4 linked regions of the Homo sapiens genome follow. The protein of the gene in region 1 interacts with the protein of each later gene in a pairwise test. Each region holds a gene or a part of one and is shown on either strand. Other genes may lie near its edges.

Region 1 (7,904 bases):
TCTGGCCTCACACATATTATGTCTCAAATATAATCTCTCTCTTCCAAGGGGTTTTGTATATTTTCCAAGGAGACTGGGAGAAGTGATCAATGAATTCTAAATAACCAGCTGTCTCCTTGATTCAGATTTGGAGGCGGCAGCTCCCTGAAGAGCCCCAGATCTCATTTCCACCCAAGCCTCAGCCTCTTTTATTAAGTCATACGCAACCCTGTCCCCACCCTCCAGAAACAGCTATCCTAGGGGTGAGATATAACTCCTACCCTGAACTTTGCCTGTCCACCACGTAAAACAGCTTTGTTTCTTGCTTCATATAAGACTCCAAAAAGTAAATGGGGTCTTATCATGCTCTCATTTCCATTCTCCCTGAACCTGCTCTGCTCCTCTTCACGCTGACATTTTCCTACTAAAGCCAGGCTCAGAGTCAGAGACTTGCTTTCTGAGACTTCTGTTCCCTGGCCCAGGAGTAACAGCCCATGGTTTGCTGAGTGCTCACCATGTAGCAGGGAAAGTTCTAAATGCTTCATGGGTATGATCTCATTTAATCCGCACCTATGAGGTGATTAATATGAAGACCCATATCTCATTTAATCAACACTGAGGTTTACCAGTACAAATACAATATCTTGCCTCAAAAGGCCTTAAACAGTACGGAAATGTGTTATCTAAATTAATTAAAGGTTATAAAGTCAAGTTGGCTCCAGACATGGTACAATGAGGACATCTGGACAGATATAAAAGAGAACTCTGAACCCCTCATATCCTCCTAAACCTTTCTAAGAGGCAGTCCTCTCAAATCCCCAACCAAGCTGCTCTGCATTAAACATTTCAATGACTTAACCTGGAGCAATGGCCTCACACAGGTATGCAGCTTCTTCTCAGCAGCCACCCCCTTCACTGCTCTGAACCCTCCAGGCCCAGAGATCTCAGCATAGCCCCTAGATAGCAGTACAAGGTCTGATTTAAGAGATAACCAAGCATCTTGCTAATTTCCATAGGGAGGAATCTGGGACACATCTATGAGTGGGAATTCTAAGGATGTCTGTCCAAGGAGAACGAAATGTTTGTTAAGATCAGGCTATATCTTTATGGGTGCACTTGCCCAGGATCCGGGACTTAATGTTAGCTGGAGCACCTGAAAGTGACATGTTGGCTATTTGGAGTTTGAAAGTGACAATCTACTATGTTGGCTCTCTGGAGTCTGAACTCAACAGCTGCACATAGGCAATAAGGATTAAGGGGCAGAACTTCCCTGGCACAGTGTTAAGGAATCCAAAAGCTCAGAGAATTAGGAGCATTACATATATATGTCCAGGTTTACGCCTATTGTTATGGTCTAATTATTAATACTGCTCTCTTTGCCGTCTGCTCAGCCAACCCTTAACCACGCCACCCTGGAGGACCCAGAGAACACACCCTTTGCCAGGGCTTTAAGAAATGCGTTGGTGAAGGGAGCATCAGAACCCTGACAAAGCCCTGAGGTAGCTGTCCCCAGCAGCCTGGAGATGACAGCGGGGAATACTAGGATTGGTTGTATTCCCTGATTTCCACGGGAATAATGGTAGTCAGAGTGACAGTGGTAGAGGCCAGTGATAGCACTTAACCATTAAAAGACAATCATTTCTTTTTTTAGTGCTTGATATTTATTGAAAATAATGCCAATGCTTTTTCCAGGTAGTATTGAGGAGCTGGGCTGAGTGCTTGTTTGTTTTGTTTTTAAGTACTATTTGTCCAAATGCACACATCTGTGGGACTGCTGCAATTTTGAAAGAAAAATGACAGCTGTGTAAAACCAGTGCATAGGAAAAAAGAAGTGTCAACAATTTGGCTGCCAGGCACACCGCGCCCCTGCAGCAATCTGGTGGGGCAGGGGAGGACACTCGGAGTAGGTAGAAAACTAACCAGGCTGAACGGCCCCTTCAGGGGTTGGTGAGCTGTCCAAATCAATGTCTGAAAAGGCATAGCCAACTCTGGCATTTTCCAGGTTGGTCCTGATCTCGAAAGGTGGTAGTCTGTAGGTGGGATGTGGTGAGTGGATGTGAAGTGGCAGCATAGTTCTCTGGGAAGATGTAAGCCTGGCAGCAGGGCAGGTGGCAGCAGCAGGGCTACGGGTGGTCTGCGCAGTTTGTAACAGGGGCCTGGCCAATAGCTGGGGTTCAGGACACAGTTCAGATTAGCAGGGGAGGGATCCCGGGGATGGCCAGGGTAGATGACACTTCCAAGCACTTCCGAGTGAGTGAGGCTCCAGCCCCGACCCCAGCAGCAGGTAACTGGAGCGCTATTCCTGGAACAAAGACAAGCACTACGGAGAAATGAAGAGAGAGAGCAGACGGGCGCGGGTAGGTAAGGGGACCGGAGGGCAAGGGGGAGAGCAGTGGCTCCTGGCGGGGTGAGGGCTGCGGGGAGGGGGTGGCGGCGTGCAGGGCCCTCCCCCCCGAGGCCCGAGGGTCGAGGGCCTAATAATCATCCTCCTCTTCTTCGTCGTCGTCGTCTTCGTCGTCATCCCAGCCAAAGCACTGTTTCATCTCATCGAGGAAGGCCCGGTAATCACCTAGGATGGGGCTATCCATCTCGATGTAGGGCACCACCCACTCCTCGGCTTCCCCGGTGAGGAGGCTGATTAGGAATGCCACCTTCATGGCGTCGTTGCAGAATCGGTTCTCGTTCACGAGCATGTAAGACGCCGTCTGCACGATAAACTCGGGGAGCCGGGAGCTCTCGCCATTAAACGTTTCGGGGAAGGGCACCGGGCAGCTCGGCGGACGTACCTGGCGCAGCAGGCTGGCCCTCTCGCACACCAGCAGCCGCAGCTGTTCCATGAGCTGGCTGTTCTCGATGCTCAGGGCGCGGTGCCGCATCAGGAGCGCGTGCAGCAGCAGCACCAACTCATCCACCATTGCGAACGGCCTGGAAGGACAGGACTCGGCTCGGTTCGGCTCGGCCAAGGTGCGCACGGAGCCCTCGCAGGAAGTGCGTGTCCACGGAGGCGCTTGGTGGCCAGGGGCGGGGGGCGGGGGGCGGTGTGCGCCGGGGTCCGGGAGGCTACGCAAGCTCCGCCCACGAGGCCATTCGGACGGACGGTGCGCCGGCGCGACGGGGGAGGGGCGTGGCTAGGCTGGGAGTGGGGGGGCCGCGGCGGCGTGGGGGCGTGGCCGGGATGGGAAGGGTGTAGACAAAGAGGGCGTGGCCAGGAAAAGGATGCGCTGGGTCGCTGAACCACCGGCTTGTGGTAGGTCTCTCGGCGGGCAGTTAAAGGCTGGGATAGGCTCCCCTAGCTCCTAGTTGTGGGGCCTGCGTTAGCAGAGGACTTGGCGAGCGCTGAGTCCGGTCTCAGAGAAGGTAAATTTGTTCAAACTGAAAGGATTAGCCACCCTTCTACCTAGGTAGCTTGCACAACTCAGTGTTCCTTCGTGGGTCTGTGGCCACTAGATTCTCTTGGCTTGATGTTTTATTAACACATTTTCTTTCTTATTTAAATCTCACTCAGAGAAGTATTGACACTGCTGGCTGCCCTGTGGGAGTCACACTTCCTTTTAGAATCATGAAGACCCTCAGGGGGTCCTGCCTTTCATGAAAAAGGTAGTATTTAAACAGTGACTTCTTTAGTAGGGAAATAATATGGTATACACACACACACACACACACACACACACACACACACAAAACCTAAGTAACAAGATATAAAAAAGTTCTGCAAAATCAGCATCCAATAGTCAATTGCAGGCATCCCACATATCTTTGATTCTCTATTTCTTGTCTTGCTATTAGTGCCGTTGGCCACTGGGTATTATTCTGTACTTAAAAATGAACTGTTAAGATGTTTGTGTTTTTAAATAATTTTGTTTTTCTACTTTGAATGGATCCCTGATTCTAGAGCCAACATGAATTGTTGGCTCTGCTTTCAAATATATTGCCAATTCAATCACGTCTTGTCATTTCTGCCACTGCCACCCTGATTCCTAGCCTTTCTTTCTCACCCAGACTGCTGCAACTAATCACTTAGCTTTCACTCTTTTCTTCCTATAGTATATTCTCCATAGAGTAGCCACGGGAATCCTTTAAAACAAAAATTAGGGCCGGGCGCGGTGGCTCACGCCTGTAATCCCAGCACTTTGGGAGGCCGAGGCGGGCGGATCACGAGGTCAGGAGATCGAGACCATCCTGGCTAACAGGGTGAAACCCGTCTCTACTAAAAATACAAAAAATTAGCTGGGCGTGGTGGCGCATGCCCGTAATCCCAGCTACTCGGGAGGCTGAGGCAGGGGAATTGCTTGAACCCTGGAGGCAGAGGTTGCAGTGAGCCGAGATAGCGCCACTGCACTCCAGCCTGGGCTACAGAGCGAGACTCCGTTTCAAAAGAAAAAAAAAAAGATCCCTTCACTCTCCTGCTCAAAATCCTCCAACAGTTTCACCTGAGAATAAAGAGCAAAGTTGCAGCCAAGGCCTACAAGGCCCCTCCTTCTATCCTGTGCCTCTTCCCAGTTTCTGCTGTGCTCTAATCACTGTCCTCCTTGCTGATTCTCACACCCATCAAGCAGTTCTGGCTTCATAGCCTTTGCATCTTCTATTCCTTCTGCCTTGCAAGGCTGTCATCCCAGTTGGCTGCCTGACTCCTCCTACTGCTTTCAGAGAGAACTTTTCTGACCACCGGACCTATCAGAGCACCCTGTTCTCTGCCCCCAATCTGTAACCCTTTACTCTGCTTCATTTATCTACATAACATTTATTGTGCTACCGGCCACCATGTCGTATGTATATACAGTACTTTGCTCATCATCTGCTTCCATTTTAGAATATATAAGTCAAACACTGCTTTTGCTATCTGGTCTATCCCTAATGCCTAGAAAAGTTCTGGCCCAGAGTAGAGGCTTCATTAATGTTTGGCGAGTAAAATCATCCCAGAGTGAAGATGCTGAGATGAAAATCAGAAGTTGTCGCTGCACAAAGAGTCAAAAAATACTCTTCAAATTGTTAAATGTAAGGTTGGGCGTGGTGGCTCATGCCTGTAATCCCAGCACTTTGGGAGGCTGAGGGGGGCAGACCACCTGAGGTCAGGAGTTAAGACCAGGCTGACCAACATGGAGAAACCCTGTCTTTCCAAAAAATACAAAATTAGCCAGGTGTGGTGGTGGGCGCCTGTAATCCCAGCTACTTGGGAGGCTGAGGCAGGAGAATCACTTGAACCTGGGAGGCAGAGGTTGCCTGAGCCGAGATCACGCCATTGTGCTCCAGCCTGGGCAATAAGAGCAAAACACCATCTCAAAAAGAAAAAAAAAAAAGAAAAAAAATTGTTCAGTGTATTTTATCTCTGACCATGGATCAGTCTCGATTGTGAAACAATGACTGATGTAATAAAACTGGCTGAATAGATTTTTAAAGAAATTCGATTCGGTCCTTTAGGATAGAATTGAATGATCATCCATGGAAGTAGGAGGCTGGGAAAGAGCAGAGAAACAGGGCCAAGCCCCAAGCAGGGACACGGGGAAGATCACAGTGGTGAAAGGATAAGCAGTGAAAAAAAGAGATAGGAGGAATGTGAGCTTTTGGCCTCTCCTGTGCTATGAGCTCCGCCACCTGAGAAGTTGGCAGGCAGGGATCCACTCTCACTCTTAATTTTATCTTCAGCACCTGGCAGTGTTTACTAGCTGCTCCGTAAACATTCAGTGTAAGGATTGAGGGGAGGGATGTGAAATGTGGAAAGTAGGTCTCTGGCCATCATGCCCATTTACAGTTCAGAGTACAGGATGGGCCTGACTGGGACAGAGGTAGTGTCCAGCTTCACCTTTCATATCCAGGCCCTAATACAGGAAGAGTACTCAGGGTTCGACTCCTGGGAGCACACTTTCTTTCTTTCTTTTTCTTTTTTTTAGACAGAGTTTTGCTCGTGTTGCCCAGGCTGGAGTGCAATGGCACAATCTCGACTCACTGCAACCTCCGCCTCCCGGGTTCAAGCGATTCTCCTGCTTCAGCCTCCCGAGTAGCTGGGATTACAGGCATGCGCCACCACGCCCAGCTAATTTTATATTTTTAGTAGAGACAGGGTTTTTCCATGTTGGTCAGGCTGGTCTCAAACTCCTGACCTCAGGTGATCCACCCGCCTCGGCCTTCCAAAATGCTGGGATTACAGGCGTGAGCCACCGCGCCCGGCCTAGAGCACACTTTCTGTAGCAGACACTGGGCCAGGTGATTGGCAGGGCTGTCACAATGACTCATACACAAGGACCAGACATGGGAATGGGCATTTTAGAGCCAGAGACCCAGGAGGTAAATATCTAAACCTAATAAAGCAATAGGTTGATGGTGCTATACCTTCATGCCAACCTCTCTAACTCTAAAGCCCGCCCATGCCCTTGCTCTGAATAATTAATATGTGCTGGACCCTTGTGACTTCAGTGGGCCCAGGCAGGTCTAGTGGGGAACCAGAGATGATTAGGCAGATGCTGCCCTAATTTTCTCCCTACAACCCCACAGCAGAGGGATTCAGGGAGGAAACCAGACGAGGCAACCACTATTGTTCCCTCTGAGTGTGCTCTGAGACCCTGGAAGACAGGAAATGTCCTGCCCAGAACTGAGCAGTGACTTTGGGAGGTGCTTCCCTGGTTGGAGAAAGGGAATGGAGACAAGCAGCTTAGCACTGACTCACAACAGAAGCAGTCAGGAAGAGGTATGTAGTATCAGTTGATAGAAGATGTAGAATCTTAATGCTCATTTTAACCAGCTTCCAGGTGCCTGTGAGGCTCTCCCACCAGTGCCAATGCATATCAGCACTTCCTTCTCCATTCACCCTGCTCACAGCTGCATGTCGCCTTCCTCATTTTCTTTCCCCTTCTCGAGTGGCCCTTAAGTGTTCCTTTCCACTTAACGTGAATATGCTGGGGGCAGACACAAGTACTCCCTGTGACAAGTACTCATAGGGAGTACTTGTCTCGGGCCAGTAAAATTTATCAGGACAGCTCTGGGTTGGAACGCCCTAAGGGTGGCTTAGACTCCACCGTTTGGCAAGAGCACAAGTCCAAGGCACTCACTACCACCATGTTTCAGGCTCCAAACCGTGCCCTGGTACACATCAAGCATCCAGACTGTAAAATTCTCTTGAACATGAAAATTTCCCATGATTCTTGAGCCACCAGATGAGTGTGCACACATCGACTGGGTGAACTAACTCAGCACTCAAATATACAGCCAGGAACAGAAACAGCTTCGGAAAGAATATTTGTGAGAGGACTGCATGAATGCTGCCAAGAGCCAGATCTCTTCCCACATAGACTTCCCCCATCCCCCTTCTTAGCCAGGTGCACCTGGGACTGCTTTTTACAGAAACCTCACTTGGAGGGCAATAGAGACCTCTGGCCCGGAGAGAGGAATGAAGAGGCACAACTTCCTCCCTCCTGTCTTTGCCCTCTCCAGCTTACTAAAGTGCTGGAAACATTTTTACATGTTTATTAATGTACTAAATTGATGTATTCTTATGGTTGAAATACCTTAAATAATATTGATGTCTTAAAATAAAAAAGGAACATTCTTAAGACCTCTCCTTCTCACAAAATATCACTTAATAAGATTGTTGAAAATTCAAATTTTGCCCTCTCTTGTTCTCTCTCTCTAAGGAGACTCAACGCTTCAGTTTCTTAGATGATATAGAAAAAGCGTGGTGCAAATAAAGTCATAGTTCCAGATATAGAACTGGAAAATCAGCTTTCTGTAACTGAAAGATTTTTATGAATTAATGTTTTATATTAAGTATTTTGTATTCTTCATGTATAGGCTTTTGTATTGCCATAATATAGAATTAATTGCCTGCAGTGTGCTGCACTAGATAGTTGTTAGTTTTTCTCTTGCCTAGTTATTTTAATATAATTGGTCACAGTGATTATACAAGAGTTTATACACGTGTTTTGTTTCTGCCA
Region 2 (6,979 bases), on another chromosome or scaffold:
AGATTTAGCTGAACAAGATAAGGCAAGCCTGGGGTGGTAAGGAGACAGAAGATGATGCTGGGGGTTATATCATGGAAAGTAGCTAATCCATGTCATAATTATCTGGAGCCTAGAGCCAGCTAATTAGATGACTGTTCTCCAATACAGTTGGCATTTTATGAATATAGATCTGTGAAAATAAAGCAGAGGAGGATCACAGTGGCACCCTTGGCAGCATACACAGCAGGAATTAAGGGTCCCAGTGTGAGCTGAGAACAGGAATGAAACACCAAGTAAATCTAGAAACACTGGCTCCAGTTGTCAGGACAGGAAACAGGGCTGAGGGATATTTTGGCTGAAGAGGTGACAAATACCATGAGCAGTACCCAAGGGGTCAGGAAGCCTTTTAAGGCTTGGGAATCATGTGAAGGACTCTGGTCTGGGAAGGACCCAATCTCTTGATAAGTTAGGGGTATGACCTGGAGTTCTCAAAAAAGGTGATGCCAATCCCAGCACAGTCGTGGTATTGTTCAAAGTCTGTACTGTTCAATATAAATATAATGCAAAACAGATATGTAATTCTAAATTTTCAAGTGGCTGCATTTAAAAAAGTAAAAAGAAACAGGGGAAGTTAATTTTGATAGTATATTTTATTTAACCAATATATCCAAGATGTTATCTTGTCAATATGTGACTCTAGGCACATTTCAAGTGCTCAAATGCTATGTGTGACTAGTGGCTACCTATTGGACATCACAGCTCTAAACCATGCTAAAGTCAGGAAAACACAGGATATTTTACTAACTACTGTGGGTTTTCAAGGTCACTGAAGGCTGTTATTGTAGCATCTCCAGTTATAGTTATTAGGATTACAATTTACAGTTCGGTTGTCTTAAAGAACAATGCTTTACATCCTAGGTTTGATTCTGGCCTCTGTCCATTACTAATTGAATGGAGCAAGTTACTTAATCTCTTTGAATCTTAGTTTTCTCACCTGTCAAATGAGCAAAATAAGTATCCTCCTAATGGATTCCTAGGAGACACTCATCAAATAGCTGCTCCTTTTGATGTCCCATTACTTCAGACATTAAATTTTTCACAGGTTTCTCCTGGGGAATTGTTTAGGGTCCAAGTCTCATCTGCTGGTGGCTTTAATTCTTGCAACACAATTCTGCTACCTCTAACATCTATCTTTCTTATCACACTCAGACACCGGAGGAGCAGATGCACCAACTCTAACCTCCTCCTTTTCCTCTTAATTCTTCTTAGGTGCAAAGTATTCAATAAGCCCGCTTCTCTGGTTTAGTGTTTTTGTTTGTTTTCTGTTCCTTATTGGTTCCCAACACAAGTAATAGCACCCAACAATGGCTCAGCCCCTGAGCCCAGTGTTTGGATACAGAACCCAAAGTAGATCTTCTGTCCTTCATGAAGTGTGTTTATAATTATCACCTTGAACCCTACAGCCTACTTATGTGTCCCATCTACTGCTTTCCAGCTCCAGATCTTACAGTACTTGGACCTAAAGAAGGAGCAGGTCTATAGGTTGACTGAAGTTTGCTATGTGCACTGTGGAGCATAATAAAACTGTATCACTGATCTTTCATCCATCAACTGACATCACAGACAATATAGCACATCATTATTTACCGTGCTAACCTTTAGTGGTTTCATTCTACCTAAGTTTTTTTTTGCAATTGGATTACAAGTTGAGCACCCCTAATTTGAAAATCTGAAATCTGAAATGCTCCAAAATCTGAAGCTTTTTGAGCACCCACATGATGACATAAGTGGAAAATTTCACACCTGACCTCATGTAAGGGGTCACAGTCAAAACACAAGCAAACAACACATATTTATTCAGCATCCCCAAGGGGAAAATAAAATTACCTTCGAGGTAATGAAATATAAATAAATTCTGTGTTTAGACTTGGGTCCCCTCCCCAAGATATTGCATTATGTATATGCAAGTATTCCAAAATCCAAAAAAAAAATCTGAAATCCTAGACATCTCTGGTCCCAAGCATTTCAGATAAGGGATACTTGACTTGTATAAGCTCCTTGAAGGGAGGGCTCAGGCTTCAATAAAGAGTTAACCTTCCAGGATCATTGTATCCACCCCTGTATCTCCCACAATACTGCGCACACAGCAGGGGCTCAAGCAATAACTCTGCCTACATGTTAGTTTTCTGGTGGGTAGAAACTAATTTGTAGAAACAAAAAAATCTACATGTATGGACCAATAGTGTCTGAGGTTCTCAGCAGGAACCATCAAATTCTGCAGCAAGCACATTTTCCTGGCCTACTACCACTCCAGCCTTAGAGGCAGGCACCTGAGTTTTTCCCAGGTCTGAAGGGACACTTCTGTCCAGCAATGGTTACTGGTTGAGTTGGCACAGGAAAGGCGTTGGGTGCTATAACCACTCACAACCTAATTCCCCTTCCTCAGACGATTTTCCTAGGAGTGAAAGACCAGCTCCAAATCATAGGCCCGCCCTGCCCCCAGATCTGTCTCTGGGCCGGGTGCCCTTTCCATAACACACACTCGCCACTGCATGGGGGACAGACATCCTTCCGGTGTCTTGGAGACTGAAAAACCCTAAGATCCCTAGTGGTGATTCTCCAAAAACAGAACCTAAATATTATAACTTTGGGGGCAGATGAAAGGCTGTAAGGATGAAAACAGAGGGAGATGAGTGGGTGAGAGGTGGGGTAGATAGGTGAGCGACCTTATCTTCCTTCTTTCAAAATTCAACCCACTGCATCAGGCGACACCCGTTCCCCTCGAGAAGGCCCCGGGTGGGGGCCGAAGTGGGATAGGCCAGGCCTGGAGTGCGGAGAGATGGAGAAAGCTGTAGGGTCTGGCAGACATATCCTGTGCTTACCACGATCACCACTTTGGGGGTGGGGCCCTTAACCTCCCGCTGTACGGTGCCAAACCGCTGGCTGTACATTTTCGAGTCCCCTTCGGGACGGGGGCGGCGTCCGCCGCGTTTCCCCCAACCGTGGCGACCTGCGGGACCCGCTTCCGCGACGCAGAAGTCTGGTTGCCATGGTGCGCCTCGCGGGATTAGGGGCCGGTAGAGGTGGGCGGGTCGGGCGGAAGTCGGTCTGGTCACCATGGGGGCCGCAGACGCCTGCACTCGGGACTTCCTCTTCCAGCTGAGAAGCTGAGCCTGCGCAGTCCTCACCCCGCCCCTCGGCCAAATCCCGCCGACCTTGCTCCCTTCCTCCAGGGTTCATCAGAATGGCAGAAAAAACCTCTAGCCCAAGAAAAATCAAAGCTCTAATTACAATTCCAGTTGACTTTGCTATTTATATCTTGTAATGGTCTAAAAGTATGAAAAAGGTTAGCGAACATTTTTTGGGAAGCTTAAATTTTGCACTATCTGTAGGTTAATCTTGATGACGGTAATAATCACAGGAAAACCTTATATTTGTGTAGTTCTTTACAATTTCCAAGATATTTTCACACACACAGCCTTTTAACCTCACAGATTTTTTCTGAGACAAGGTCTCGCTCTGTCGCCCAGGGTGGAGTGCAGTGGCGTGATCATGGCTCCCTGCAGCCTCGTCCTCCTGGGCCTCAGCCTCCAGAGTATCTGGGACTACAAAGCCTGCGCCACCACGCCCTGCTAATTTAAAAACAAATTTTGAAGAGACAGGGGGTCCCGCTATGTTGCTCAGGCTGGAACTCCTGCTCCTGGGTTCAAGCGATCCTCCCCACTGCCCCTCCCGCCGGCCTCCCAAAGTGTTGGAATTACAGGGTGCGCTACCGCGCGTGGCCGCAAATATCTTACAGGGTTGATAGAATAGCAAGTAATACTATCCTTATTTTCCAGCTAAGGCAAAGCTCAGGGAGCCTAAGTGCCTTGTCAAACCAAATAACCAGTAATAATAATAATTTTTTAAAACCTGTTAATAAAATCTTCCTATTTGCCATTGGCAGAAACCAGGGCTTAGACTCAGGATATCCTAGGATGGGGGCAGATCAAATGGACTAGTGGGGCAGTGGCACGACCTGGTGGAGCATAATTAAGAGTCTGAGGGTCACAGTGGACCAGGGTCAGGATGTGGATCAGAAGTCCAGTAACTGGTTTCTGAGAATCAGGATCCAGGCAGAACAGGAAACACAAATCAGGGAACCAGGACGGACCTGCAGCACAGGTGGTAACCACAGTTGCATTTCCAGTCAAGAGCAAGGTGGTAATACCTAAAAGCCAATTAAGAATGACACTGTGATACTCCCATTCTAAAGTGGGGGTGAGCATAGAACACTTGTGAGCACATGCAACAAATCAGTACCTACGTCAAACTGACATATAATAAGTACAACTAATGTGTATGCCCTCTTAAGGACGCAATTTACTGTAAATTAGCATTCCTTAATCATTTGTAAACCACCCACTTCGGATTTTGTATGTGGTATGTTTCTAAATACGAATTCCATTTCCTGAATTGCTGGTTCAGCTTTTCAGCCACGAAATAATGTTTTTCTTCTCTTTTAATAATTCTGTCATTTTGTGTTCTTTTCTATAACGGTTCTTTCAATTGCAGTTCAGTAAAATACGCATTTGCATTTACTAAGAGTTTACGTGGCCTGAAACAGAAAACAAACAAATTAGGTGGTCGTCTCGGTTTCCTGGAGTGTCCAGAGGGGCGGTTCTTTGATCTTCGAGTCCAACGGGCTCCGGGCCCGCCCGTCGGTCCGGGCGGAACCACCCCCACCACACATCCTCCGGGAAGGCGGCAATGAAAACGCCTTGGGCCCGAAGTACGGCTTGGGAAAATCGGCGCAGATTCGGGGCCGCCCGTTGGGGATTCCCAAGGTTGTGCAGCCCAAAGGGCCTCGTCGGAATTTCTGAGGCGATGGGGTAAACCGACCCTTGGCGACACCCGGCCGCACTCGAACGTCCTAGGTCGTCGAGCCCCGCCCTCACCCTGGGCGAGCTCCGAAATTTAACCCCGGTTCGGTTTTGCCTGTTTTACCACTATTTGAAGAGGGGGACTCAGCTTCCCTCTGGCCCTAGCCCAAGTACTGGGGTTTGCGCCGGACGGAGACCACGCCCCAGGGCGGCCAGGCCAGGGGTGATGGGTGACGAGCGGTGCCTCCAGGGCCCCGGTGGGTGACTGTGGCTGGGAACTACGGGCTTTCTCGCCCCGGCGCCCCCTGGCGGACCCACCAGCAGGTTGAAGGTGTCCGGCCAGTGCTGAGCACCAAGAGCCTCAGCCTTCAGCCAACCCCCCGCCCCCGCGGCCTAGGTAAGTGAATCGCTCAGGGTCCTTGGAAAGAAGTGACCTTGATTTGATCTTCCCACCCACTATCCCAGTTTCTCAGAGGCAGTCAACACTGTTCCCACCAAACCACTCCCAAAAGAAACACTAAGCATGTAAGTAAGTGGGACAATAAAAATTTAAAAATAATTTTAAAATAGAACAGCTTAGAGATAGAAACTAAATTATTTCCAATTCCTACTGTGCCCCAAACAAGGTTCACAAAAGGGCTGTCCTCCCAACAATTTTCTGAATTCTATATATTCAGCATTAAATTCCATGATAAAGTTGGAAATCCATTCACCATTTGTAATACATATTGATGCATTTAATAAAATTGCATGGGCCGTATCTTTTGCATTTCTGTATCCTAGTATTAAGTACAGTGCCTACCACAGGCCAGGTTCTCAATACTTGAATAAATGACACAAAAATAGCCAGGACCAGCAAGTTTTTTCTGGGTGGGCTTCATAGAATCTCTGTACTTGCTGGAATCACCATGAAATCCATGGTCTTCAGCTTTGCATTTTCAGCCACATAGTTATATTGAGTTATCCTCAGGTGAGCAGTGAGACCCTTGGGAGCGGATTCATGGTAGGGTGGCTTTGTAATGTGTCACCTTGGTGAGGCTATGTTTCCCGGAACTCTCTTCCAGTAAGATGGGCCACAAGAGACATTTTGCTTGATAACCGGAGGGCGGAAGTGAAGCAGCAGCACATTGTTTTTACACTTGGAAGGTTGGTGCTGGGGCACCAGGCGTTGTTGCAGTTCACACGTTGCCATGTATCTGCTAGATCACCTCGTTGGTGTGGGCAGTAGTCAGGCCTGCAGCCAGGCCTGCAGCTGCTCCACCTTCCCCAGGATCATCCTTTCAGCTTCTCTAATTCCTGGGCCAGATGCATATTTAACTCTGTGAGGAAGGGCACCAGCTTCTTCTGCAGGACACCCACATCATCGAAGCTGGAGGTGGTGAGAGACTGACATGGGTTCCAGGCCATCCTCGTGGGTTCCAGCTCGTGCTCGTGGGCTCCACTGTGTCCTCGGTCTCCCACACTTTACATCCATCTTCCCTTCCCGAGTGCCTGCCCTGCAGACTTCAAGCTCCAGCATTAGATGCAAAGACAACAGCCTTACAGAGACTGTTTAACCAGCTCCCACAATGGCATGCGGTCAGATCCCTATAATAAATCCCTTAAAATACATATATACATAATCTTTATCTTAGTGGTTCTGCTCCTCTGATTGTACCCTAACATAAATGGTCAGCAGAAGCTTAACTCATGAGTCTAAATGTCAATCAAATAAATTTCATATAGATCATTGTCAAAATTACCAGAATACTGGGGTTGGGTGGTTGGTTCCTGGGGGAAACAAAGCAGTATCAGTCTATCCAGTCTTGACTAGGGCTGAACTAGTTAGGATGGAATAAAGGAAGGGGTGGGGAAGGTGGCAGAGGCTGGACTGTATGAGACAGAACTGGGAAATGGCTAATCCATGTCTGAATTACTTAAAGCTGCAGGGCTGGGACTAGGGTAAGGCAAGGGAGGCACACAGGATACAAAGTTTAAGGAGGCACTCACTCAGTCCTGGCCCTGTAAAGCTGGCTAACAAATTACAGGTCTAATCTTTTTGGCACTTTATGAATGAAGAATTGGGAGAGAGTGAGGTAGGGCTGAGCCAAGACTGGCTCTTGGGCAGGACTCGAAGCAGGAATTCAGCCTCCTAGAAC
Region 3 (8,011 bases), on another chromosome or scaffold:
TCCTCCCCAGAACTTTCCTGCCGAGGGCTCTCCTCTTCGTTTTCACTCTCGGCACCTACAGAAAGAAAGGGAGTCTACAGCCCCCAGCCCCTTTCAGAACACGGGGTTTGGTCTCTCTTCCCTCCCCCGGGTGTCCCCCAGAGTCCAGGCCCCTCCCTGAGCCGGGACCACCGTCTTGCCGGGACCGCAGCCCCTTCTTGTGCCCCTCACCTCTGTGAGCATCGTTGGGGCTCTGTTCCGGACCCTGCAGATCCGGGCCCCACAGCGCAGTCTCGGGCTCCATCCCAGAGCTCAGGACTGCAGTGTTCCAGGGACCCTGCGGGGGAAGACAGCGATGAGCGCACACTGGGAGCTGATTTTGCACTTTGCTTTATTCCCCCTGAACCTCACTCCCACCCTGCCCCGCCCCATTCCTCCTTGTGTGAACTTCAGTGTCCTCCCACCCCATTTTTCTGGGCACGGGTTCTTGCTGTGGCCCCCTTCCCCTGCAGGCCTGATTCTCACTCCAGATCTTAAGCGCACAGCTAAGCAAGCAGGTGAATTTAAGAGCGTAATTAAAAACTCATCACTCATAAGCCTTTGAACCCAGGATGGGGGCTGGAGCGGTCTCTGACATCCACAGGGGAAGGAGTTTTTCACCCCATACCTCTGATGCCCAGAGGCTGGGAAACCTGTTATTTGCTAATCAGAGGAAGCTCATTAAGACTCTAATTTTCCTCTTAATGGGGCTGCTAATTGAGACCAATAAACTTTTCTGTGCCCCAGAGTGAACCGAGGCTGCCTGAGACACTTAAAGGGTTAAGAAAAAAAAACACCCCAGTTTCCCAGAGGAGACAGAGGCCCTCTAAAAGGACTGGGGCACTTCCCTGTTATCCAAGCACAGAAAGAGGGTCAGGCTGGAGGTGGGGAGAGGGGCAGTTTAAAGCTGCATCTGCAGGAACCGCCCAGAGGAAGAGAAAAAGTAAGGAGAAGGGGAGGATGGATGCTTGTGTGAACACCTGCGGCAGACCCAGTGCCTGCCATGGTGTCATTTCTCTCACCCAGTCCTCCCACAGCCTGGTGAGGAGACCCAGGAATCAGGCTGTCCATTTTACAGATTAGTACATCAATGCCTGGGGAAACCTCTCCAAGGTCAAGGCTGGGAAGTGGCAGAGCTAAGATGATAAAAGCAGGGCTCCATATCTGGCTCACCCCTGTCTCTGAGAGCACGAGGTGACCTTGGGAGTCATGTGAGACTCATGCTCATGGGAGGCTGGCAGGAGACAGGTGATGAGGACAGCTCATGGGGAGCCTGCTGGCAGTGAGAATAGGCTGGAGAAATTCCTGGGACCCAGAGGTTTCCCAGGCTAGAAAAGGAGGAGTTGGACCCAGGGACTAGGCCTGCTGGTCTGCACCCATGAGCTGGAACCATACTCCCCACCAAAGCCCTCCTATCCCCACTCCTGCCCGGACCCTCCTTCTACTCCTTTTGTCCTGCTTTCTTGAGGCTGTTTCCCAAGCCTAGCCTGGCACTGAATAGGTGCTCCAGAAACTTTGTTGAATGAATGAATGAGTGAGATGTCCCTAGCCCCTGGAACACCTGTTTGGTCTAATGCCTTTAAAGATCAGTTTGCAAGGGGATGGCAGCAAAGGAGCAGGAGTTCCAAGTGGCCCCCTGGTAAAATAAATAAATAAATAAATAAATAAATAAATAAAAACAGCCAGCTGTCACTCCAAAAATGGTGAGATGAGTTCAGGATGAGGGAATGGGGCCACAGGAACAAAGCGCTTGAAGGAGGTCCCACACCATTTACACCCTGCAGAGAATCCCTGGGTGGGGCCTGGAAACTTTGGATGGCTGTGTGAGGTGGGCGCTGTGTGCACAGGGGCAGTGGGGCAAGGGAGACATGGCAGGAGGCGCTGAGAGGTGACCAAGGTGAAGCAAGACTGGCTGCACCCTGCCAAAGAGCGGTAGGAGAGACAGAAGTTAGCGTTTAGGAAGTAAATTAATTTCTTCATCTCTGCAGCTACTTAAGCTCCGAGAATCCCCCCTCCCCGCCTGTAAGTGTCTTTGGGGTGGTGGAAGCGGAGACCTCTGCCACACTGGGGGCTGCCTGATGTCCGGTCCGGGAAGGATGCCCTGCTGTGTTTGCTCGGGACAGGTAAGAGTTTGTGGACCTCGATGGTCTCCAAAAAATTCTCCCCTAGTGGTCCAGAGTAGGAGGGAAAGGGTTAATGACAGGGCCGACACAGAGCATGGACGTGGGAAGACCGAGGGAGGCCGAGGCGCTGGGAGCCCAGGCGCCAGGCACGCCAGCCTGAGACCTCGCGATGGCCCCACTGCAGAGGGAGGGAATGAGGAGCCGCCTCCCGAGAGATGTGGGGAACGGCCCAGGGTGACCCTGACATGGAGGCGGCGGGAATGCGGCCGCCCGGCCCGGCCCCCCCACCGCTTGGCTCCGGACTTCTGCTCCCCCGGAGCCGCGACCCCCGTCCCGCTGCTGATACAGAGCCTGGGCATCCGCCCCTGCCCCGGCCCCCGGGGTCCCGGCTCCTTCCAGCACTGCCAGGCTCCTCCAGGGCTGCGCTGGCAGCGCTGGTCCCCGGCCCCGGCCGATCCCTCTTCCCAGAATCCCCAGGCTCCCCTCCCCCGCCACCGACCCCCGCGCTTCCCAGAATCCTCGGCCCTCCGCGCCCCCCGCCCGCCCCCACCCCGGCCACAGCCCCGGGCGCGGGTGGGGGGCTCAGGCCCGGGCTCCCGGCCCCCGCCTCCCGGGCCCCATTGTTCCCCGGCGGCCGTCCCGGGCACTCCAGGCCACCCCCCGGGAACCCAGGCGTCCCCAACTCACGGCTCTGGGGTCTGGGAAAAGCCGGAAGGCGGAATCCAGCCCCAGGGGACTTAACCCCTTCAGTGCCCTGCCTCGGGGGACGGACTGGGCGCCGAGGACTCTGGGGTCCTTCTCAAGGGGTGATTCCAGGCTGAGGACCCGGGGACCAGTTCAGGGTGACTGGGACGGAGCAGGAAGTGACCCCAGCTTCCCGGGCCCCTCTAGCCTGGAGTCAGAGCATCAGCTCTATGGGATTTAACCCTTTGCCTCCCGCAGCCTGGGGAAAAAAGGGGACAGCGGTGGGAGCAGGGAGGAGGCTGGGACGACGCCCCTGTCCCCGTCTCCAGTGGGAGCAGGCAGCGTGGGCATCTGGGAGAGCCCCGATGCCCGCGAGGGTCCCTGGGCTTCTGGCCGCTCTTCATTTCGCAGGGGCTCCGCCGGCCGCGCCCGGAAAGCCCTATCTCAGATTTGGCGGCTGCTGATCCCCTGAGGCCAGTCTTTGTTTGGACTAACCCTGGGATGGGGCTGGGGTGGGAGCAGGGGCTGGCAGAGCAGACCTGAGAGGGAACACCCTACGCACTAAACATGGCCTTAATGCTTGATGGAAGTCATGGCTGCAGGAGTTGGGACTGCAGGAACAAGCACAGCCGGGAAGGATTTGCAATAGCCTGTGTTCCAGCCCCTCTTCTCCAAACACCTCCCCTCAGAGGAGGAAACTGAGGCTCACGGTGGCAGGAAAGAAGCCAGTGGGGGTTCCCTGGCCAAGGAGGGAGAACCTCTTTTCTCATAGCTCAGAGGGCACCCGGCTCACAGCAGAAGAAACCTTTAAAAACCCAGGAACACTGGTGGCCTCTCAACGTCCAAGTTATCTATGCTCGCAATTTTTACAGCCTTTCTTTCTTGTCTTCCTTATCACAGTCCCATGGGATAAGGTTGCCCATCATCCCCATTTCACCGGGGAGGAAACCAAGGTGTGAGAAGCGACTGGTGTACTTAAGGCCACCTGATTCTTTCAGTTCAACACACTGCATTATTATTCCTGGGCACTGTGGTTAACACTGGGGTGGGCATACCTCTGAGATGCATGGAAATTGGGCTTTCTACCCTTGGGAAGTTTGGTATTGTGTATGTGTTACAAACACAGAGGAATCCTGGGAGCGTGCAGAGGGCTCTGTCCAGAGACTGAGAGGCTGGGGGGAAGAATAAACCAAAGGTCAGAAATTACTAAAGGCAGCTGGGTGCGGTGGCTCACGCCTGTAATCCCAACCCTTTGGGAGACCAAGGCAGGCGGATCACTTGAGGTCAGGAGTTTGAGACCAGCCTGGACAACATGGTGAAACCATGTCTCTACTAAAAATACAAAAATTAGCCAGGCGCAGTGGCTCATGCCTATAATCCCAGCACTTTGTGAGGCCGAGGCAGGCAGATCGCTTGAGCCCGGGAGGCAGAGGTTGCAATAAGCCAAGATTGAGCCACTGCACTGCAGCCTGGACGACAGAGTGAGATCCTGTCGCAAAAAAAAAAAAAAAAAGAAGGAGGGAGGGAGGGAGAGAAAGAGAGAAAAGGAAGGAAGGAAGGAAGGAAAAGAGAAAACAGGAAAGAGAAAAAATTGCTAAAGGCCAGGCCTGGTGGCTCATGCCTGTAATCCCAGCACTTTGGGAGGCTGAGGCAGAAGGGTAACTTGAGCCCAGGAGTTTGAAGGCTGGGCAACATAGTGAAACCCTGTCTCTACAAAAAACTTAAAAACAATTAGCTGGGCAGGGCGCGGTGGCTCATGCCTGTAATCCCAGCACTTTGGGAGGCCAAGGTGGGTGGATCACCTGAGGTCAGGAGTTCAAGACCAGCCTGACCAACATGGAGAAGCCCCATCTCTACTAAAATACAAAAATTAGCCCAGCGTGGTGGTGCATACCTGTAATCCCAGCTGCTTGGGACGCTGAGGCAGGAGAAGCGCTTGAACCTAGGAGGCGGAGATTGCAGTGAGCTGAGATCGTGCCATTGCACTCCAGCCTGGGCAACAAGACCAAAACTCGGTCTCAAAAAAAAAGAAAGACAACAACAACAACAAAAACAAACAATTACCCTGGCGTGGTGGTGCATCGCTATGGTCACAGCTACTTGGGCTGAGGCAGGAGAATCACTTAATTCTGGGAGGTGGAGGCTGTAGTGAGCCATGATTGCACCACTGCACTCCAGCCTGGGTGGCAGAGTGAGACCCTGTCTCAAAAAAAAAAAAAAAAGTCCGGGCAGGGCACGGTGGCTTATGCCTGTAATCCCAGCACTTTGGGAGGCCAGGGCGGGCAGATCATGAGGTCAGGAGATTGAGATCATCCTGGCTAACATGGTGAAACCCTGTCTCTACTAAAAATACAAAAAATTAGCCGGGAGTGGTGGCACATACCTGTAGTCCCAGCCACTTGGGAGGCTAAGGCAGGTGAATCTCTTGAACCTGGGAGGTGGAGGTTGCAGTGAGCCGAGATCATGCCACTGCACTCCAGCCTGGGTGACAGAGCGAGACTCTCATCTCAAAAAAAAAAAAAAAAAAGATGGTTTGGCGAGGTGGCTCACACCTGTAATCCCAGCACTTTGGGAGGCTGAGGTGGGCAGATCACTTGTGGGCAGGAGTTCAAGACCAGCCTGGCCAACATGGTGAAACTCTGTCTCTACTAAAAATACAAAAAATTAGCTGGGCATGGTGGCGTGCACCTGTAATCCCTGTTACTCAGGAGGCTGAGGCAGGAGAATCACTTAAAACCCAGGAGGTGGAGGTTGCAGTGAGTCGAGATGGCGCCACTGCACTCCAGCCTGGGCAACAAGAGCAAGACTCAGTCTCAAAATAATAATAATAATAATTTTAAAAAAAATTAGGCCGGGCGCAGTGACTCACGCCTGTAATCCCAGAACTTTGGGAGGCCGAGGCAGGCGGATCATGAGGTCAGGAGATCAAGACCATCCTGGCTAACACGGTGAAATCCAGTCTCTACTAAAAATACAAAAAATTAGCCGGGCATGGTGGCAGGCGCCTGTAGTCCCAGCTACTTGGGAGGCTGAGGCAGGAGAATGGCGTGAACCTGGGAGACGGAGCTTGCAGTGAGCCGAGATCGTGCCACTGCACTCCAGCCTGGGCGACAGAGCAAGACTCTGTCTCAAAAAACAAACAACAACAACAACAACAAAAAACACACATTAAAAATTGCCTGGCATGGTGGCTCATGCCTGTAATCCCAGCACTTTGGGAGGCTGAGGCGGGAGGATTACCTGAAGTCAGGAGTTCAAGACCAGCCTGGCCAACATGGTGAAACCCCATCTCTACTAAAAATACAAAAATTAGCTGGGGCTGGCTGGGCGCAGTGGCTCACGCCTGTAATCCCAGCACTTTGGGTTGCTGAGGCAGGCGGATCACGAGGTCAGGAGTTCGAGACCAGTCTGACCAACATGGTGAAACCCCGTCTCTACTAAAAATACAAAAATTAGTTGGGCATAGTGGCGCACACCTGTAATCCCAGCTACTCAGGAGGCTGAGGCAGGAGAATTGCTTGAACCCGGGAGGTGGAGGTTGCAGTGAGCAGAGATCGCACTACTGCACTCCAGCCTGGGTGACAGAGTGAGACTGGACATAGTGGCATGCACCTGTAGTCCTAGCTACTCTGGAGGCTGAGGCATGAGAATTGCTTGAACCCAGTTGGTAGAGGTTGCAGTCAGCTGAGATCATGCCACTGCACTCCACCCTGGGTGACATAGTAAGACTCTATCTCAAAAAGAAAAAAAAATTAAAAATTGAATTTCTTGCTTCTTTATTGATTGATTGATTGATTGAGACAGAGTCTCGCACTGTCACCCAGGCTAGAGTGCAGTGGTGCAATCTTGGCTCACTGCAAGCTCTGCCTCCCGGGTTCACACCATTCTCCTGCCTCAGTCTTCTGAGTACCTGGGACTGCAGGCGCCTACCACCACAACCAGCTAATTTTTTTGTATTTTTAGTAGAGACAGGGTTTCACTGTGTTAGCCAGGATGGTCTCAATCTCCTGACGCTGTGATCTGCCCACCTCAGCCTCCCAAAGTGCTGGGATTACAGGCCTGAGCCACCGCGCCTGGCCTGAATTTCCTGCTTCTTTGGAAAATCCAAAGATGTGGCAACGTGATCCACATTTTCACATGTCAGTAACTGGCTGTTGCTGGGCAGCTTGCGTCTTTACAGGGCACTGACCTGCCAGCTGGTCACCATCCCTGTCATTCCTCTGTGTCCCCAACCCTGAGGCCAAGGTGGCTTCATTATATGAATGGTCCTTCACTGCTGATGTTCCAACTCCCGTTTAACTGTAGGTATAGATTCTGGACCCCTTAGTCTGTGTCTCCAAGGTTCAGAGTAATTTTTTATTTTTAGAGACAGTGTCTTGCTGTCACCCAGGCTGGAGTGCAGTGGCACGATCATAGCTCACAGCAGCCTTGAATTTCTACGCTCAAGCAATCCTCCCACCTTAGCCTCTCAAGTAGCTGAAGCTACAGGTGCGTGCCACCATGCCTGGCTAACTTAATTTAAAATTTTTTTGTTCCTCACAAAACTTCTTCCTGAATAATTTTTTAAATATTTTTATAGAAATAGGATCTCACTATATTGCCCAGGCTGGTCTCAAACTCCTGGATTCAAGCAGTCCTCCCATCTTCACCCCGCAAAGTGCTGAGATGATGGGCATAAGCCACCACGCCCAGCTCCAGAGTAACACATGAGGATGGTGCCTGCTGACATAGTTACATTTATTGAGCACTTATGCACTAGGCACTGTGTTTGCATGTAATGACTCCTTAAACCTCCACAACTCATGGCACCATTATTATTATCATCCTGGGACAGAAAGGGTAAGTCACTTGCACACAGGTCACCAGTGGCAGGAGTGGATTTAAATCCACGCACGGTGACTTCAGAGCCACCGTGGATCCTAAACACGTCTCTCCTGCTCAGATGGGCCCAAGCGTGTCTGGGACCCAAGGGTGAGCCTCTCAGTCCCTCCGTCTTCTCCCTCAGAGTTGGAGAGAGGAGCTGGGAAGGGCAGGGCACCCCCATTTGGGCCAATACATCCTCCAGGAAGAGTCTGGGTGTCCTGCTCCTAGGGATATAAAGGCTGCCATGTCCTCTTGCCCTCAATCAGCTGGCATCGCAGCCATGGCAGCAACCTGCCTGGCAGGGGAGCTCTTGCAGGGATGTA
Region 4 (7,021 bases), on another chromosome or scaffold:
ATCTGAAATAAACTTGGGCGATCAAAGGCTTTCCCACATTCCTGACATTTATATGGTCCATCTCCAGTGTGCTTAATCATGTGTCTTCGAACACTTGGGAGAGAAATGAAGGCTTTCCCACATTCCGGACATGCATAGGGTTTCTCACCAGTGTGAGTTCTTTCATGTCTTCGAAAGGATTGACAAGAACTGAAGGCTTTCCCACACTGCTTACATTTATATGGTTTCTCTCCATATTCCTGATAGTCATATGGTTTGTGTCCAAGGTGAGATCTGATGTGCCTACTAAGGGATGAATGATGCATGAAGACTTTCCCACACAAACTACATTCACATGGTCTTACTATAGTAGGAATTTTCTTGTTCAGATTAAGATTGAGAATCTGACTGAAGGCTTCTCCACATTGATCATATTCTTTACTTTCACTGAGTCCCTCTTCCATATGATTTCTGGAAAAAATAGAAAGCAAGATTTAGTGGTTTGTGACTTTATATTTATTAATAGGTATTCGACTTACATTTTTACCATAATCGCGGAAAGGGTAAGTTTTCAGGCCTGTATGAATTGTTTGAAAGTGAATGGATGGAATGCTCTGCAAGAGAGCTTGACAGTAGCTATCACCAAAAAAGTGATATCCATATATACAGTTTCTTAATACTATTTCCAAGTGAATGATTTTGCAACACTGAACATCTATGCCACTTTTTCTTTTTCTGGTGAAAAAGTTGTAGGAATAAATAAATCTGAAGCTGGGCTTACTGGTTTGTTTACTTATTTTTAAAATTTCATGACATACTAAGAAGGAGACATTGCTTTATCTTGTCAGTGCAAATTACCTTAAAATTCTCCCCTGATTTTTGTACCAATCTTCAATGCTCTGGTCTTCCCATTTTTTTCCTAAAATATAGTCAGAAAAAATCCTTATGAACTGATAGACATTACAGAAAAATGACTAGATTCTAAGTTCATGATAAGGTGCAAACAACCCTGATTTATTCACCCAAGTATTCCCTTTTCCACATTAGACATCATGAAAAAGCATTAAAAAGCAAGAAATACTTCTTCTCTAACTGACTAAAAGAAGGAATGATGTCATCCTTACCTACACAGGCCAGGTTTCTAAAGGTTTCCCGCATCACATCTCTGTAGAGTTTCTTCTGGGAAGGATCCAGCAAAGCCCACTCCTCAAGTGTGAAGTTCACAGCCACATCCTCAGAGGCCACTGAGTCCTAAAACATCCCAAATATGCAATGCAGGAGGAAGAATGAGATGACAGTACAGGGATGTAAACCCAATTCATAAAAGTTCACAAATGGCTAGGTGTGGTGGCTCATGCCTGTAATCCCAGCACTTTGGGAGGCCAAGGCATACAGATCACCTGAGGTCAGGAACTTGAGGCCAGCCCGGTCAACATGGTGAAACCCCATCTCTACTACAGATATATGAATTAGCTGGGCGTGGTGGCGTATGCCTGTTAATCCCGGCTACTCAGGAGGCTGAGGCAGGGGAATCGCTTAAACAAGGGAGGCAGAGGTTACGGTGAACCAAGATCACGCCACTGCACTTCAGCCTGGCTGACAGAGAGAGACCCCATCTCAAACAAACAAACAAAAAACAAAACAAAAAAGTCGACAAAACGATGTGGCAGTCTCCAAACATTTATTTTATGATAAATAAATATGGTTGTCAGAATTCCGTCTACATTCACTTTCTCATAAATTTAATTACCCCATGAAAACATGCAACTGATCTCTACATTTTTACTGTAGTCACTACAAGTTTTATTGGTCTCTAATGGCAGGATCCAGTTCACCTTGGAGAAACAAATAAAATGCTATACAAAGAAAACAAATTTTGGCCAGGCCTGGTGGCTCACACCTGTAATCCCAGCACTTTGGGAGGCTGAGGCAAGAGGATCACAAGGTCAGGAGTTTGAGACCAGCCTGACCAACACAGTGAAACCCCGTCTCTACCAAAAATACAAAAAAATTAGCCGGGCATGGTGGCATGCACCTGTAATCCCAGCTACTCGGGGGGCTGAAGCAGGAGAATAGCTTGAACCCAGGAAGCGGAGGTTGCAGTGAGCTGAGATCATGCCATTGCACTCCAGCCTGGAGGACAGAGAGAGACTAAGTCTCAAAAAAAAAAAATTTAAGATCATCATTCCTACCAGGAAAAACTTCCATTTCCTTTCATATCTCACACCAATCAGCATTCCATGAAACACAGGGTAGGCCAGGCGCACTGGCTCATGCCTGTAATCCCAACACTTTGGGAGGCAGAGGCAGGCGGATCACCTGAGATCAGGAGTTTGAGACCAGCCAGCCCAACATGGCAAAACCCTGTCTCTACTAAAAATACAAAAAATTCACTGGGCGTGGTGGTGGGCACCTGTAATACCAGCTACTTGGGAGGCTGAGGAAGGAGAATCGCTTGAGACCAGGAGGCGGACGTTGCAGTGAGTAGAGATTGTGCCACTGCACTCCAGCCTGGGTGACAAGAGCAAAACTCTGTCTCAAAAAAAAAAAAAAAAAGAAAGAAAGAAAGAAAAAAAGAAACACAGGATAAAAACTGAAAAAGGTATCCATGAATAAATAAATATACACTGAAGAAGTGAAACCATTTTCTTCTGTTCCCTTCATCAAACATGAGAGGCCAGAAGGCCCGTAGAAATCCACGTTCTGACAAAATCCAGCTGACCACACTTTCCTGAAGGATTCCAGGCCATCAGACGTAGACAGATCAAGTTGGTTGAAAGAAAATATTCCTCTGCAAAAGAAGTCATTTTAACCTGCATGTATAACATTTGTTATAGACTCACTGATTCCTTTGACTCTGTCCCATTTCACTAGGCTAGGAAGCTACTGGGAAGACAGAACTCAGGCATGAAGAAGAAGGTATGGCAACTTAGGCAGCGCCCCCTCACCCAGCAAAATCCCCAGTCATGAACGTCAAGGGCAGTTTCCCACCTATTTTTACCTTACATACACAAACATACTAAGAAGACAAAATGCCAGAAGAGTTTTTTCTGGCAGATACATAACAAGGTACCCTATGACTTGCTAACCTTGAGGAACAGGTTAAGAGTTGCAATTTCTGAGGGATTTCATTCAAGTCCAGATGGTTTGATGGTGAATTTGACCATGATTATAAAATACACGAAGGGATCAGCAGTGCTTTTCTCCAAAAGAACATAAAATCCTCTTTCTCAAATTTCAAGAGGAAATGATTCCTGACCAGTCACTATGTGATACTACATTGTGTAATGTCAAGGCAAAATAAAATAAGGGGAAAGATGGGTTCTTTTGGTTTTCTTAGAAATGGGAACTTGCTCCGTCATCCACACTGGAGTGCAGTGGCATGATCACAGCTCACTGAAGCCTTGATCTCCTGGGCTCATGTGATCCTCCCTCCTGAGTCTCTCAAGTAGCTAGAACTATAGTCGCAAGACACCATGTCTAGCTAATTTTTAAATTTTTTGTAGAGATGGGGTCTTACTTTGTTGCTCAAGCTGATCTCAAATTCCTGCCTCAGCCTCCCAAAGTGCTGGGATTACAGGTGTAAACCACCACACCTGGCTGGAAAGATGGGTTCTGAGAAAGAATGAAATGTCCTCAAGATAGCCTCTTACAAAATATTTTTTAAATTCTATAAATCCCCTAAAAACTGTTGAAGAGTCAACAAAAAGTTCTTCTCCAAATGTAGCAGGAATAATGAATATCTAACAATGGTCAAAGTCTTCTGAAGAACAACATGATAGCTTCCCTAACCTTTAACAAGAATTCTGAATGCTGGCCAGGTATGGTGGCTCATGTCTGTAATCCCAGCACTTTGGGAGCCTGAGGCAGGCAGATCACTTGAGTTCACTTGAGTCAGGATCATTTGAGTTAGGAGTTTGAGTCTGACCTGGGAAACACGGCGAAACCTCGTCTCTACTAAAAATACAAAAATTAGCCAAGCATGTTGACGCGCACCTGTTACCCCAGCTACCTGGGAGGCCGAGGCAGGAGAATCACTTGAACCTGGGAGGTGGAAAGTGCAGTGAGCCGAGATTGTGCCACTGCACTCCAGCCTGGGTGGCAAGACTCTGTCTCCAAAAAAAATAAAAAAAAAAATAGGAGAACCATGGTAGGCACTGAGGAAAAAAGACCACATATCTTTCTTACAATACCACAGAAGGCCACAACCCAGGCCAGGAACAAAGGCTCACTAACAAATCATATGATTACAAAATATGTCACACCTCAGGTAAAATGCTCAATTAAAGCCCAAGAAGGAAGGTCAGAGACAAAAAAAGAAACAAAAGCAAGGGCAACTAATAGAAAAAAGTAAAAAATATGGTAGATATTAATACAACTGTATCAATAATCACTTTGAATGTCAATAGTCCAAATATAATTAGAAGACAGATGCTGTTATAGTGGATTTTAAAAACATAGTATGTTGGCTAAAAGGAAACCACTTTAAATACAAAGACACACATATTAAAAGTAAAGGGATAGGGAAATATATAAAATGCTAACATTAATTAAAAGAAACATGGCATGGCTATCTTAATATCACAAAGTACACTTCAGAGAAAGGAAAAAACACAGAGATAAGCCAGGTGCAGTGGCACATGCCTATGGTCCCAGCTACTTAGGAGGCTGAGATGGAGGATCACCTGAGACCAGGAGTTCAAGGATATAATGCGCTATAATTTATTGTGAATAGACCCTGCACTCCAGCCTGGGGAACAGCGAGACCTTCATCTCTATAAAAAAAATTTAAAAAAAAAAATTTTTTTGGCCGGGCGCGGTGGCTCACACCTGTAATCCCAGCACTTTGGGAGGCCAAGGCGGGCGGATCACGAGGTCAGGAGATTGAGACCATCCTGGCTAACACGGTGAAACCCCGTCTCTACTAAAAATACAAAAAATTAGCCGGGCGTGGTAGCAGGCGCCTGTAGTCCCAGCTACTCGGGAGGCTGAGGCAGGAGAATGGCGTGAACCCGGAAGGCGGAGCTTGCAGTGAGCCGAGATCGCGCCACTGCACTCCAGCCTGGGCGACAGAGCGAGACTCCGTCTCAAAAAAAAAAAAAAAAAAAAAAAAAAAATTTTTTTTTTAATTAACCAGTTGGGGTATCACAAACTTGCAGTCAGCTACTTGAGAAGCTGAGGCAGGTAGATTGCTGCAGCCTGGGAGTTCAAGGCTGCAAAGAGCTATATGATCACACCACTGCATTCCAGCCTGGGAGACACAGTGAGACTCTGTCTCTAAAAAAAATAAATTAAATTTTTAAAATAAATAAAGAGATATAAGTGAGCATCACATAATGATAAAGGACTCAACATGCCAAGAAAACCTGACAACCCTTAGTGTGTGTTTGCATAACAAGCGTTGCAAAATACATGTGGCAAAATACAACTGATAGAACTGCAAAGAAAAAATACACTAATCTACTTGTATAGTTGGAGACTGCAGCACCCCTCCAGCAGTAATTAAGAGATCCAACAGGCAGAAAATCTGAAAGGACATAGTAAAGTAAATAGCATCATCAAACAACTGGATTTAATTGAAATGCATGGAATACTTCATCTAACAATAGCAAAACACAAATTCTTCTCAAGTTCACAGGAATATTCACAAAAATAAACCAAATACTGGGGCATAAAACACACCTTAATATGAAAAATTTTAAAAAATCATACAAAGTATGCTCAGACCACAAGTCATTCATCTAGAAATCAATAACAGAGATAGTTACCAACTCCCCCAAATCTTTAGAGATTAAACAACACAATTCTAAATAAGCACATGGATCAAAGAAGTCTGAGAAATCAAAAATAATTTTTGACCTAAAATGAAAATGAAAACAAAATTTATCAAAAATTAGGGTATGCAGCAAAAGCAGTGCATAGAGGAATATTTACAGCATTGAACACCTACACCAGGAAAGAACAAGGGTTTATAATGAATCATCTAAGAGTCTACTTCGGGCTGGGTGCAGTGGCTCACGCCTATAATCCCAGCAATTTGGGAGGCCAAGGCGGGCAGATTACTTGAGGCCAGGAATTGGAGACCAGCCTGGACAACATGGTAAAACCTCGTCTCTACTAAAAATACAAAAATTAGCTGGGTGTGGTGGCGCATGCCTGTAATCCCAGCTACTCAGTAGGCTGAGATACAAGAATCACTTGAACCTGGGAGATGGAGGTTACAGTGAGCCAAGATCATGCCACTGCACTCCAGCCTGGGCGACACAGCAGGCTGCTGTCTCCAAAAAAAAAAAAAAAAAAAAAAACAGAAAAAAGAAAAGAGTCTACTTCAGGAAAACAGAAAAACAAGAGAGCAAATTAAACCCAAGTAAGCAGACAGACAGACAGAATAATTGGAGAAGTCAATGAAATGGCAGGAAATCAATAGAGATTAAAAAAAAAAAACAGAAGTCGGTTATTGGAGAACACCAATAAAACTGATAAACCTCTAGTCATGGTAAGAAAAAAGAAATTACTAAGATCAGAAATGAAAGGAGGCAAAAGTAAAAACTAAAGAACATTTGACAAAATCTACCATCCACTCACGGTGGCAAACTGGGAATAGAGAACTTCCTCCTCAGAAAGAACATCAATGAGGAACCTGCAGCTAACATCATACTTAACAGTGAGAAACTAGATGCTTTCTACACAAGACCAGAAACAGGGTAAGAATGTCTTCTCTCACCACTACTATTCAACAACATCCTTAAAGTCCTAGATAAGCAACAAGACAGAGGAAATAAAAAGTATATCGATTTAGAAGGAAGAAATAAAATTGTCTTTGCTGCATAAGACATGATTATATAAAATATATAGATGGCATATAAACATATGAAAACATGCATATTTTGTCACTGGGGAATTACAAATTTAAAAATTAAAGACTAACACAACCTTTATTAGAATGGCTAAAATTTAAAACACTGAGAACACCAAATGATGGCAAAGATGTGAAGCAATAGGAACCCTCATTTGTTACTTGTGGGAATGGAAAACAGTGCAC

What was found.
Region 2: the proteins of LDOC1 (region 1) and CFAP53 interact in binary tests that used the Homo sapiens proteins (3 or more experiments, as listed by UniProt).
Region 3: the proteins of LDOC1 (region 1) and ZNF629 interact in binary tests that used the Homo sapiens proteins (3 or more experiments, as listed by UniProt).
Region 4: the proteins of LDOC1 (region 1) and ZNF564 interact in binary tests that used the Homo sapiens proteins (3 or more experiments, as listed by UniProt).

Annotation. Positions count from the first base shown.
Region 1 is NC_000023.11:141,174,128-141,182,031, forward strand, and holds the start of LDOC1 (protein LDOC1), read right to left. Parts: upstream 3,003-7,904; 5' UTR 2,895-3,002; coding exon 2,454-2,894; 3' UTR 1-2,453. UniProt on the Homo sapiens protein: May have an important role in the development and/or progression of some cancers.
Region 2 is NC_000018.10:50,263,475-50,270,453, forward strand, and holds the start of CFAP53 (cilia- and flagella-associated protein 53), read right to left. Parts: upstream 3,022-6,979; 5' UTR 2,931-3,021; coding exon 2,862-2,930; intron 1-2,861. Other genes in the region: MBD1 (methyl-CpG-binding domain protein 1), read right to left, coding at 6,155-6,344. UniProt on the Homo sapiens protein: Microtubule inner protein (MIP) part of the dynein-decorated doublet microtubules (DMTs) in cilia axoneme, which is required for motile cilia beating.
Region 3 is NC_000016.10:30,784,200-30,792,210, forward strand, and holds the start of ZNF629 (zinc finger protein 629), read right to left. Parts: upstream 3,007-8,011; 5' UTR 2,829-3,006; intron 317-2,828; 5' UTR 284-316; coding exon 211-283; intron 75-210; coding exon of another isoform or gene 56-74; coding exon 1-55. UniProt on the Homo sapiens protein: May be involved in transcriptional regulation.
Region 4 is NC_000019.10:12,527,467-12,534,487, forward strand, and holds part of ZNF564 (zinc finger protein 564), read right to left. Parts: intron 1,231-7,021; coding exon 1,104-1,230; intron 899-1,103; coding exon 838-898; intron 451-837; coding exon 1-450.